3 linked regions of the Homo sapiens genome follow. The protein of the gene in region 1 purifies or fractionates together with the protein of each later gene. This does not show direct contact. Each region holds a gene or a part of one and is shown on either strand. Other genes may lie near its edges.

The links.
Region 2: the proteins of DYDC2 (region 1) and TGFBRAP1 purify together in Homo sapiens (affinity purification with mass spectrometry; one large-scale study listed by BioGRID and IntAct). This does not show direct contact.
Region 3: the proteins of DYDC2 (region 1) and DLGAP5 purify together in Homo sapiens (affinity purification with mass spectrometry; one large-scale study listed by BioGRID and IntAct). This does not show direct contact.

Annotation. Positions count from the first base shown.
Region 1 is NC_000010.11:80,363,251-80,366,907, forward strand, and holds part of DYDC2 (DPY30 domain-containing protein 2), read left to right. Parts: intron 1-3,437; coding exon 3,438-3,657.
Region 2 is NC_000002.12:105,267,197-105,270,764, reverse strand, and holds part of TGFBRAP1 (transforming growth factor-beta receptor-associated protein 1), read left to right. Parts: intron 1-1,059; coding exon 1,060-1,493; intron 1,494-3,205; coding exon 3,206-3,382; 3' UTR 3,383-3,568. UniProt on the Homo sapiens protein: Plays a role in the TGF-beta/activin signaling pathway. It associates with inactive heteromeric TGF-beta and activin receptor complexes, mainly through the type II receptor, and is released upon activation of signaling.
Region 3 is NC_000014.9:55,150,511-55,153,642, forward strand, and holds part of DLGAP5 (disks large-associated protein 5), read right to left. Parts: intron 2,138-3,132; coding exon 2,080-2,137; intron 1,432-2,079; coding exon 1,185-1,431; intron 339-1,184; coding exon 289-338; intron 1-288. UniProt on the Homo sapiens protein: Potential cell cycle regulator that may play a role in carcinogenesis of cancer cells. Mitotic phosphoprotein regulated by the ubiquitin-proteasome pathway.

The sequences.
Region 1 (3,657 bases):
GTTAATGAAAAAAGGAGATGTTAAAAGACAAATTTGTCTTAGATTTTAGGAAATACTCTGGTGTTACTGGTTTTAAAAAAAATCTGTTTTTTTTTTTTTTTTTTTTTTTTTTGAGATGGAGTCTCGCTCTGTTGCCCAGGCTGGAGCACAGTGGAGCGATCTCGTCTCACTACAGCCTCTGCCTCCTGGGTTCAAGTGATTCTCCTGTCTCAGCCTCCCGAGTATCTGGGACTACAGGCACATGCCACCACGCCCGGCTAATTTTTTTTTTTTTTTTTTAGTAGAGACAGGGTTTTACCATGTTAACCAGGATGGTCTTGATCTCCTGACCTCATGATCTGCCCACCTCGGCCTCCCAAAGTGCTGGGATTACAGGCGTGAGCCACCACGCCCAGCCAAAAAATCTGATTTTTAAAAAATCTATTCACTTGGAACAAATATTTTTTCATATAAGATCCTTTGAGCCCTTTTCAAGTAGTATTCAGTATTTTTCAGAAACCAAATATGATTGTTATCAGTGCATACTTCAGATATTTAACTTAGTATTTAGTATTTGGTTTATTATATTCTATTTACTTTTCTGTGAAACTTCAGATGCCTCCTCTGTGATGTTATAATATTAGATGTAAGTTATTAAGCTGGAATAGCCGAAGACAACTCTGCATTCGTCAGTCTGACAAGCCTATCTTTTACCTCCCACAGTTTTTTTCACAATCTCCTGAAAAACGCCTTATGCTATTCTATGCTTTCTACAAAGTGGTAGATACCTGGATAGAGAGTCGTCTCAATTGCAATGTTGGGTTTGATATATGACATCTTTTTAGCTATGACTATACTCTGTGCATTAAAGTCTTTAATGCAGTCCATTACAATTCACCAGCATTTGTTAGCTTCCAAGCCAATTTGAAGACATGAAAATATTAAGCTTATTTACATTTATACTAATATACTCAATGTCCTCATAAAGAATAGATTTGCTTTTTTAAGCCTGGATGTCTTGTAAATAAATTAAATCAAAAGATAGTTTCATTCTATTGTTTGACAATAGTCTAAAGGAACTCTCCCTCAGGAAGAATTCCTTCTTTAAGCAATTGTTTGGAGATGGGAGAGGTGAGGATCATTCAGCAAAATTTGTCATCACCTTGCTGTGCACCTCTAATCCATTTCTAACACCATGCTTTACTGTTAATAGAAATAGAAATATATAAGGCAATAAGAAATATATAAAGAAGACTCCCAAAACTTCACCCTAGTTTTATGGTAGCTTTATTAAGGAAAATTTCTCGGTTCACATCAATATTTTGAATTGTCTTTTTGTGTTTCACTGAGGTTTTGCATCCTGCAGCAATATTTTTTAACAAGATTTAGATAAGTAAATGGTATGTCATTCTTTTGCCAAGTGTGTGATGTAGGCAGTTGTAAGGGAAGATGGGAAATGACAACAAGCACAATGTCTAGACTATGTGCAAGTTCTCAGTTTTAGAAAAGAGTTCATGTGTAGGTTATGATTATGGAAATTGATTCCCTATGTTAGAAGGAAATAAAGAGAACCCAAGAGTGATCTAAAATGAAGCAAATTTATAGTTTACCTGGCAAGAGAGAGCCACAACATTAAGATGTGAGTTACTCTCCAAGCAAACTTTGACAAGGCTAAATAAAGGACAAAGAGGCACAGGTGTATCAAAAAGACAAGATTCCAAGTTCTGGTTTCTGATTGATTCAAGGTGGATTACAAATTGCTCCTTGCTATTGGTCACCTTCACCTTTTGTGTGACTAGTGCTGGGAAAACCAATTTCAAACTGGCCCAGGATGGGTTGCATGAAATTTCAGCAGGGCTGCTAGTTTACCTGATGAACTGATATGCATATACTCAAAGCTTTGCAGTTTTTTCCTTGATCGCTTTAAAAAAAAACAAAAAAACATCATGACTTGGATACAGGTTAGCAAGTCTTTAAGTATCCCAGATTGAATAGTGCTTATCTAGTGGATGTATCAAAAGAGGAACAGAAACAGAATGCTATGTATGGTAGGGATCATACCCAATTATCTGAACCAAAAAGTATCCATAGAGGAGGTAGAATTTAAGTCAGGCAGAGGTTATCCTTGGTATTGATGTCTCTTCATTAAGCAGATGCAGCTTTAAGTAAACCATAATTTTGTTTCTGAGTCAGAAGAAAACTATTGTTTATAAAGATCTAAACTATACAAATGTTTTAGAAATGTATTTTTATAGAATGAATAGATATTTGCTGCATAGACTCAATAGTTTGAAGTGTAGAAGGGTCTCAGAGACCATGTGGACAAGGATGAACTCCACGGGGCTCATTGTAGAATGGACCTGTACAACTTCCAGGCAAAGATTGAAGTGGAGGGGATCAGTAGAGCCTAAGCTCCAAGGATTCCTACCTCAGCCAGGGACATGGATGTTAGACTGCTCAATATTGTCTCATAGGTCACTGAAGCTTGTTTGTTTTTTTCCTGTGTGGTTCAGTTTGGATAATTTCTACTGATAAACCTTCATGTTTACTGACCATTTCTTCTGCAATGCCCTATATCCTATCTGGGGATTCTGTGGATTTTTTCACTTCAGATATTGTACTTTTCATTTATAGAATTTCTATTTAGTTTTTTAAATATAATTCTCATTTTCTCTGCTGATACATCTTAACTCTTACATTATGTCCATTTTCTACCTTGGATTTTTGAAAATATTTATAATAGCTGTCCTTGTCTGTTAATTCCACCATCTTTGTCATTTTGGGACCTTTTTCTTTCTCTTTTTTTTTTTTTTTTTTTTTTGAGACGGAGTCTCACTTTGTCACCCAAGCTGGAGTGCAGTGGCAAGATCTTGGCTCACTGCAACCTCTGCCTCCCCGGTTCAAGTGATTCTCCTGCCTCAGCCTCCCAAGTAGCTGGGATTACAGGCGCCCGCCACCACACCCAGCTAATTTTTTTATTTTTAGTAGAGACGGGGTTTCAGCATGTTGGCCAGGCTGGTCTCAAACTCCTGACCTCATGACCCACCCACCTCGGCCTCCCAAAGTGCTGGGATTACAGGCATAAGCCACCACGCCCAGCCCATTCTGGGGCCTTTTTCTGTTGAATACTTTTCCTCTAGATTATGGTTCACATTTTCCTACTTTTTTACTTCTGGTAATTATTACTTGTGTTCTGGACATTGTAGAGGACGTTTTATAGGGAGTCTAGATTGTGTTGTTTTCCATGAAAAGATGATGGGTTTTGTTCTGGCAGGCAGTTAAATTATTGGTGAATCAACTTGATCCTATAGGTTTGGTTTTATGCTTTGTTAAAGCAGGGCTATTTCAGTTTGGTTCTTAGTCTCTGGCATGAAAATAGCAATACTGTGTTTTTGCCATACATCTTGTGTGCTTTAGTCTCTAATAATAAGTTTTCGGCTTTTTTGTTTTCTATTTAGGAACTGACTTCTGAAACTGTTTCCACGAAGAAGACCATATTCATGCAGGAGGACACAAACCCCCTTGAGAAGGAGGCCTTGAAGCAGGAATTCCTGCCAGGTACTTCCAGTCTGATTCCAGGAATGCCTCAACAGGTTCCTCCTTCAGAGTCTGCTGGCCAGATTGACCAGAACTTCAAAATGCCACAAGAAATAAATTACAAGGAGGCTTTTCAGCATG
Region 2 (3,568 bases), on another chromosome or scaffold:
TTGTTGGCCTTCCACTGTGAGGATGAAGGCGTTGCGTATTGTGGCTTCTGTGTCTAGTGCTATAAGGGATGTACCTTGCAGGGCCAGCCCTTGGCTACACAGGTAGCAATGTCTGCCATGTTCTTCAGGCCTAAGCGACAGCCAAGATTCAAATGCCTATAATTTGATTATTAGTCTTGACCCTAAACTAGGGGTTGTCCTCATAATATTTCTTCACAGTAGGAAGAGATCTTATAATCTCTTGAGGATGTAAAAACAGATGAGCCTCACTTCTGGTCCTTAGAGACTCAGAGTTTAATTGCAATGCAGATAAGGGCTGGTGCAGTTCCAGACGGGCTGGGTGGGAAGTTACAGATGGGGTTACAGATGGGGTAGGAAGCAAGGTGACTTTGCCCGTGAGACACAGCCCACTAAGGGTGGGGCCTTGGTCAGGAATGACGCTTTGGGTTATGTCATTTTCCTTAGGACCTGGAAGCTTAATTGCAGGTGAAACAAACAAAAAAATCCTATTATTGGCAACCTTCTGTTGAGTAATGTAGAGATGGATTTTGAATAATATGAGCTCATATTCCATTCAATGAAATCTACTTTACATTGGAATAAAGGGGTTCAGCACATCTTTTGGGGGGAAGTAGTGTTTGTTAGGATTTTAGGGGACATAGTGTCCTTCTATTTTAGTCAAAAGATACTGTCCTGGGAGGATAGGAGTGATGATGGAGTGACTGGAGACCTGGAAGGCTGATACTCACTGAGCCACTGGGCCTTTCTGTAGTTGTGGTTCATTTGTTCTTTTCATCCTCTGAACACTAGAGAAAGGAATTATTCTGTGGTCCAGCTATACTTTTGAGTAGAGTCTGCCTTCTGTTTTACTAACACCTGGATTCACAGTGTGAAAATGCAAGAAAACCTACCCTCAGTCATCTGGGTGGCAGCATTTGGCATTGTGAGGGAGCCAGGTTGACTTTTCCCCTCCTGAAGCCCAGAGCAGCAAGGAGGCCAGTCGCTGGGCGGGTGGCCGGCGAGCCCCTTTCTTTCTGAGCTGCAGGTTCTGTCTTGCAGAGAGGCTGCAGGGAGCTGGCCTGCCCATGGAGAGCGCCATCCTGCACGGGAAGCTGGGCGAGCATGAGAAGGCGCTGCATATCCTGGTGCACGAGCTGCAGGACTTTGCAGCGGCCGAGGACTACTGCCTGTGGTGCTCCGAGGGCCGAGACCCACCCCACCGCCAGCAACTCTTTCACACGCTGCTGGCCATCTACCTGCATGCTGGCCCCACTGCCCACGAGCTGGCCGTGGCTGCCGTGGACCTGCTGAACCGCCACGCCACCGAATTTGATGCAGCCCAGGTGCTGCAGATGCTGCCTGACACCTGGTCAGTGCAGCTCCTCTGCCCATTCCTGATGGGGGCCATGAGGGACAGCATCCATGCCAGGAGGACCATGCAGGTGGCTCTCGGCCTGGCCAGGTCCGAAAACTTAATCTACACCTACGATAAGGTAAGTGCTGGCCCCCACGAGCTGCTTCCTGGTCAGTCAACATTGTACTGAAGGTAGATTTTACTGATGGAAAAATAGTCTTTGTTGGTTTTTCTTTTTTCTGTCTCTATGACTACAACACATCAATATCTGATCCTACTCATAGAAACTGAGGTCTGTGTGAGCAGAGGCAGAGGCTGGGCTGGTAGGTGTAACATCGGTGTAGTTTTTCTCCCCTTTTGGACGCTGGTGATTAAGAGAGTCTGTAGGGAGGAGAGCAGCATCAGAATATCAGGCGCTTACCCAGCATGTGCTGTGTGCCAGGCACTGACCTAGGCATTTTACGTCATGCTTGCATTTTGTCATCATGACAGTTTTATGCAGTATTTACTGTCAGCATCTCCATTTCACAGGAGAGGAAATTGAGGCAGAGAGCAGTCGCATGCTCAGGAAATGGGCGTGCCCAGAGCTGCCTCCCAGGCCAGTTGAGAACCCCACATTCTTCGTCCCCACACTGTACTCACCTTCGGGAGACTTCTTTCTTGTGGGCCTAAATTCCACATGGCTGGCAGAGTCTTCTTTCCAGAGCGGGTATCCGACGTGTTCCCCTCCCACTTAGAAGCCTTTGCTGACGCTCCCTGTCCTGGAAGATGCAGTCCCACCTCCTTCAGCATATCCCTCCCCACCTCTCTCTGCTTCCCAGCTCATGTCCTGGCTTTAGCACAACCTTCCAGATGTGATTTGGTATTTCATACTTTGTTGCTTTTGTAAATGCTGTACCCACTGCCTGAGATATTCTTACCTTTTTCTTTGTCCCCAGCAAATGCCCAGTCAAAATTTAGCCTTTATTTTTTTCCCTTGGTGAAGCCATCTCATACCTCTTAAGTAGAGTAATCACCTTCTCTTTCACCCACTTTTACTTGGTGTTCGCATTCACAGCTGTTACCCGCTACTATTAGAGTTTGGGTTCTTTGAGGACAGGGAACTTCATTTCTTTATCTCAGTGTCTGTAGGGCTAAGCCTGCCATGTCGAAGGCATCTAATCCGTGTTTGTGGAATGACTGATGCAACTAAGGAGTGCAGGATGAATCGCTAAGTTGCTGCTTGATCCTGCCAATAGACCAACCTGCCTCGGTTGACACGAGTGAATTGTGTAGAAAAACTTTATAACTTTCAGAACTCAAGTCCTGTTGATCAGACAGGGACCGATGGCATTAAGACTCAGTTTCACCAGTTACCTCTAAGGAAACGGAAGGGTGTCTCCCAGGACCAACCAGGAATATGCCACTTGTTAGCTGTGTAACTTTGACTACATCCCTTATTTGTTTGTGCTTTACTTTTCTTATTTGCAAATGAGAGAACCCTGGAGTTACACTATTATATGGTCTCATTCAGCATTAACATTCATGACTTTCTAACAGGCCTTGCTTGAAATGATCAGAGCCAGAGAATGTTGGAGAGAGGATCTTAAGTAGAAATGCCTCAGCCAGACAAGCAACAATTACTTTTGTGAAATAAGAAAAGCAATTGTGTAACTTTCTTCCTTGTCCAGTTACTAAGGATGGTTTTATTTACACCTTTAGCATTTCATTTCAAGAAGTTGATATTAAAGAAATCCTCATCATAATAATAACCCATGGAGTAATGCATGTCAACTCTGCAAAACTAGAACGTAGCCACTTTAAATATACTTAACACATGACAGCATTCTCAGTCTTGGTTTCTTCTTGCAGATGAAGTTGAAAGGAAGCTCAATCCAACTCTCAGACAAAAAGCTTTGTCAGATATGCCAAAATCCCTTTTGTGAGCCTGTGTTTGTTAGATACCCAAATGGTGGTCTTGTGCACACCCACTGTGCCGCCAGCAGACACACAAACCCCAGCTCATCCAGTCCTGGCACTCGGACTTGAAAAGCTTGGCCCAAGGGTGCGAGGGGAACTCCGAGTTCTTTCTGAGCCTGCTGGACATGAAGAGCAGATGACCACCATGCTCTGTGTCAGCCAGGACGAAGGGAGACATCTGGGTGCCAGGGAGCCTTCCGTCCATACGCAACAAGGACTCCTCGCTGCTGACCAGGCTCTATGAATGTACATGGA
Region 3 (3,132 bases), on another chromosome or scaffold:
CTTGAATCACTTAGAAATATATTCAGATATTCAAGTACCCAGTTTGTCAGAGCAAATTTGATAGAAAAACCATATAGAAAAACATATCTTCAGGGTTAATATTAAAACATACTATATTTTAAAGTATATAAACACCAAATTTTTCTTCATTCTGTGAAAAATGAAGAGTGAGTAAGCAAAACAATGACAAGATATACATTTTAAGCCTTGTACACAAATAGAAAAGCAATATTCATTTTATAAAACAAATCTAGAATATAAAGGGACTTGTCAAGTTGGAAAACTTACTGAATCAAGAAGGTGGCATTCAGTAGTGAGACTTTTATTATCAAATAGTTCTGAAAAACAACAAAAAAAAACTTTTTAAAGAATATTCTCACATTCGAGGGCTGTTAGAAATGGACAAAGCCATGAAAAATATGAAAAGTTCCACATATCAAATGCTAAGACAAAAATATAGACCCCTATGCTATAATGTTTTTTGAAAGTAGTTAAATTCTTATCCTTAACTTTGGTATAAAAGCAGACTTCTGTAAACAAATCTCATGCTTGTAACATTAAAGGTACCCAGAAAATGCTGATGAAGAACAGCTGGAGGACATTAAATGTCTGGCCGAGGTTAAAACCTTTTGTTTTACCATAGGCCCCAGTTAGACCAGCTACAGACTAACTGATGAAAATGGCAGGTAAAACTGGCACACATTATAACAAAAATATAGGAGCCATTTCCTATTGCAGAACCATCACAACAATATAGGTAGAACTAGGCAGTAGGGAAGAAAAATAGGATATTTTGAAGAAAGACTTGGGGATATGTGTTGAAAAGGACAACTAAAAAAAAAGCCCAGGCTGGCCAATGTGGTGAAACTCTGTCTCTACTAAAAATAAAAAAATTAGCTAGGCGCGGTGGTACATGTGTAGGAGAATCGCCTCAACCTGGGAGGTGGAGGTTGCAGTGAGCTGAGATCACACGACTACACTCCAGCCTGGGCAACAGAGTGAGACTCCATCTCAAAAAAAAAAAAAATCTTGAGGGAATTGTTCTAATTCAGGGTCTTCACTAACAATGAAGGATCCTCAATAGTTAGATCTAATGTAAAATGGACCTTATAGGATAATTTATACCTTAATCCAAGTTCATTTCTTTAATAAAGGCTCGTTTAAATATATTTTAAATATCTCACCTGACTGAGAAATTTTAGTTTCCCCTTCTTCTAAGATGCTATTTTGTGAAGCTGTATTTTTTTCAGGGCTACTCATCAAAACATCCTGTGATGTAATTGAAGAATTCAGTTCCATTCCTTCCACAACATCTGAAATTCCTTCTTTTTTGTTAGTATTAATATCATCTGCTACTCCACCAGCAAGAAGAGGCAAACTCATTCTCTCACTGGATAAACAATCCACCTTCAAGTCTGTCTTATTTACAACCTGGAAGTAAAAATGGCATTATATTTAATTATCAATTTAATTACTTGGAACAAATTTTAAAAGTCTTGTTGCTATTAAATACAAGAAAAACAGAAGGATGACATCCCGGACACAGTCTTAAGAACATTATAAATCCTACTATCCTGCTTCTTCAACAATTAGTTCAGATAATATTATAGAAATAGTATGATTGAAGGCAAGTTTCTCAGCAAGTACCTATACTCTAGCTCAGGGACTGGCAAACATTTTCTGTAAAAGATCAAATAGTAAATATTTTAGGTTTGTGAGTCACAGGGTCTCTGTCATAAGTACTCAACTCTACCACTGTATTGCAAAAGCAGCCAGATAGAATACATAAACAAATGTGTGGCTATTACAATAAAATATGATTTGTAAAAATAGGGGCCAAAGTTTGCTGATTTCTGCTCTAGTTCACTGGTTCCATATTCATTCTGATATGAGTTGAAGAATACAAAATGACACTATGGTTTTAAACAACCCAAATGTCATTGAAACAAGAACTACAATTCTACATGACTGATTTAGATTTCCAACGGAAATTCTGGGGATGCTTTACAAAGTTACTTTCTATAATGATATAAACATATGACATACTGGGCTATCTAACCACACTGGAATTGTACTTACATGATTTTCTTCAATTAAATCTGGTAATCCAGGACACTGAGCATCTTCTATGCTGCTCCTAAAGAAGAAAAAAAGCAGCATTACACTCATAAACATATTGTTATTGTTTCACTTGTATTTTGAGTCTTTCCTTTAATGATGGCAATTAGTTTAGGGAATGGATCAAACATGGAGCCTGGTGCAAGATCAGGCGTGATCCAGATAGATTAGTTTTGGACTATAGCTACTGCAGGATGGCCTTACAAACTAAATGCATTCTTCCCCAGAAAGCTCACAAGTCTGTTACCATGGTGGTCAGTCAGGGTCAGGTGGCTCTACCAGCAATACTCTGAATCTCAGCCAAATCCAGAGCTATATATTAAAGAAAAGTCAAAAAGAAGGTGACTTCTGGAGACAGAAGCAACAATTCAATTATTGTCTAGCTGGAGTTAGCTACATTTACTCGTTACTTGTTAATCCAGGTACCTGCTAAGAAACTTGACTTCAATCATACTATTTCTATAATTTTATCCGAAAGTTCAAAAAGCGGAACAGGAGTTACAATGTTCTTAAGTCTGCTGCTTGTTAACAAGTAAATGTAGCTAACTCCAGCTAGACAATAATTGAGTTAGAATACAAGGTATTCTAATCCTGAAGTTACTAGCTTGTATCTTATTAGAAATATCTGTTTTGGCCAGGCGCCTTGGCTCACGCCTGTAATCCCAGCACTTGGGAGGCAGCGGCGGGTGGATCACGAGGTCAGGAGATTGAGACCATCCTGGCTAACATGGTGAAACCCCGTCTCTACTAAAAATACAAAAAATTAGCTGGGCGTGGTGACATGCGCCTGTAGTCCCAGCTACTTGGGAGGCTGAGGCAGGAGAATCACTTGAACCTGGGAGGCGGAGGTTGCAGTGAGCCGAGGTAGTGCCACTGCACTCCAGCCTCAGCAACAGAGCGACACTCCGTCTCAAAAAAAAAAAAAAAATTTATCTCCACTTCTTTCAAGTTACTTTTTAAAAAAGATATGCTCTATTTTTCTAGTGTCCAGCTTTACTTTGCCTTTATTACACA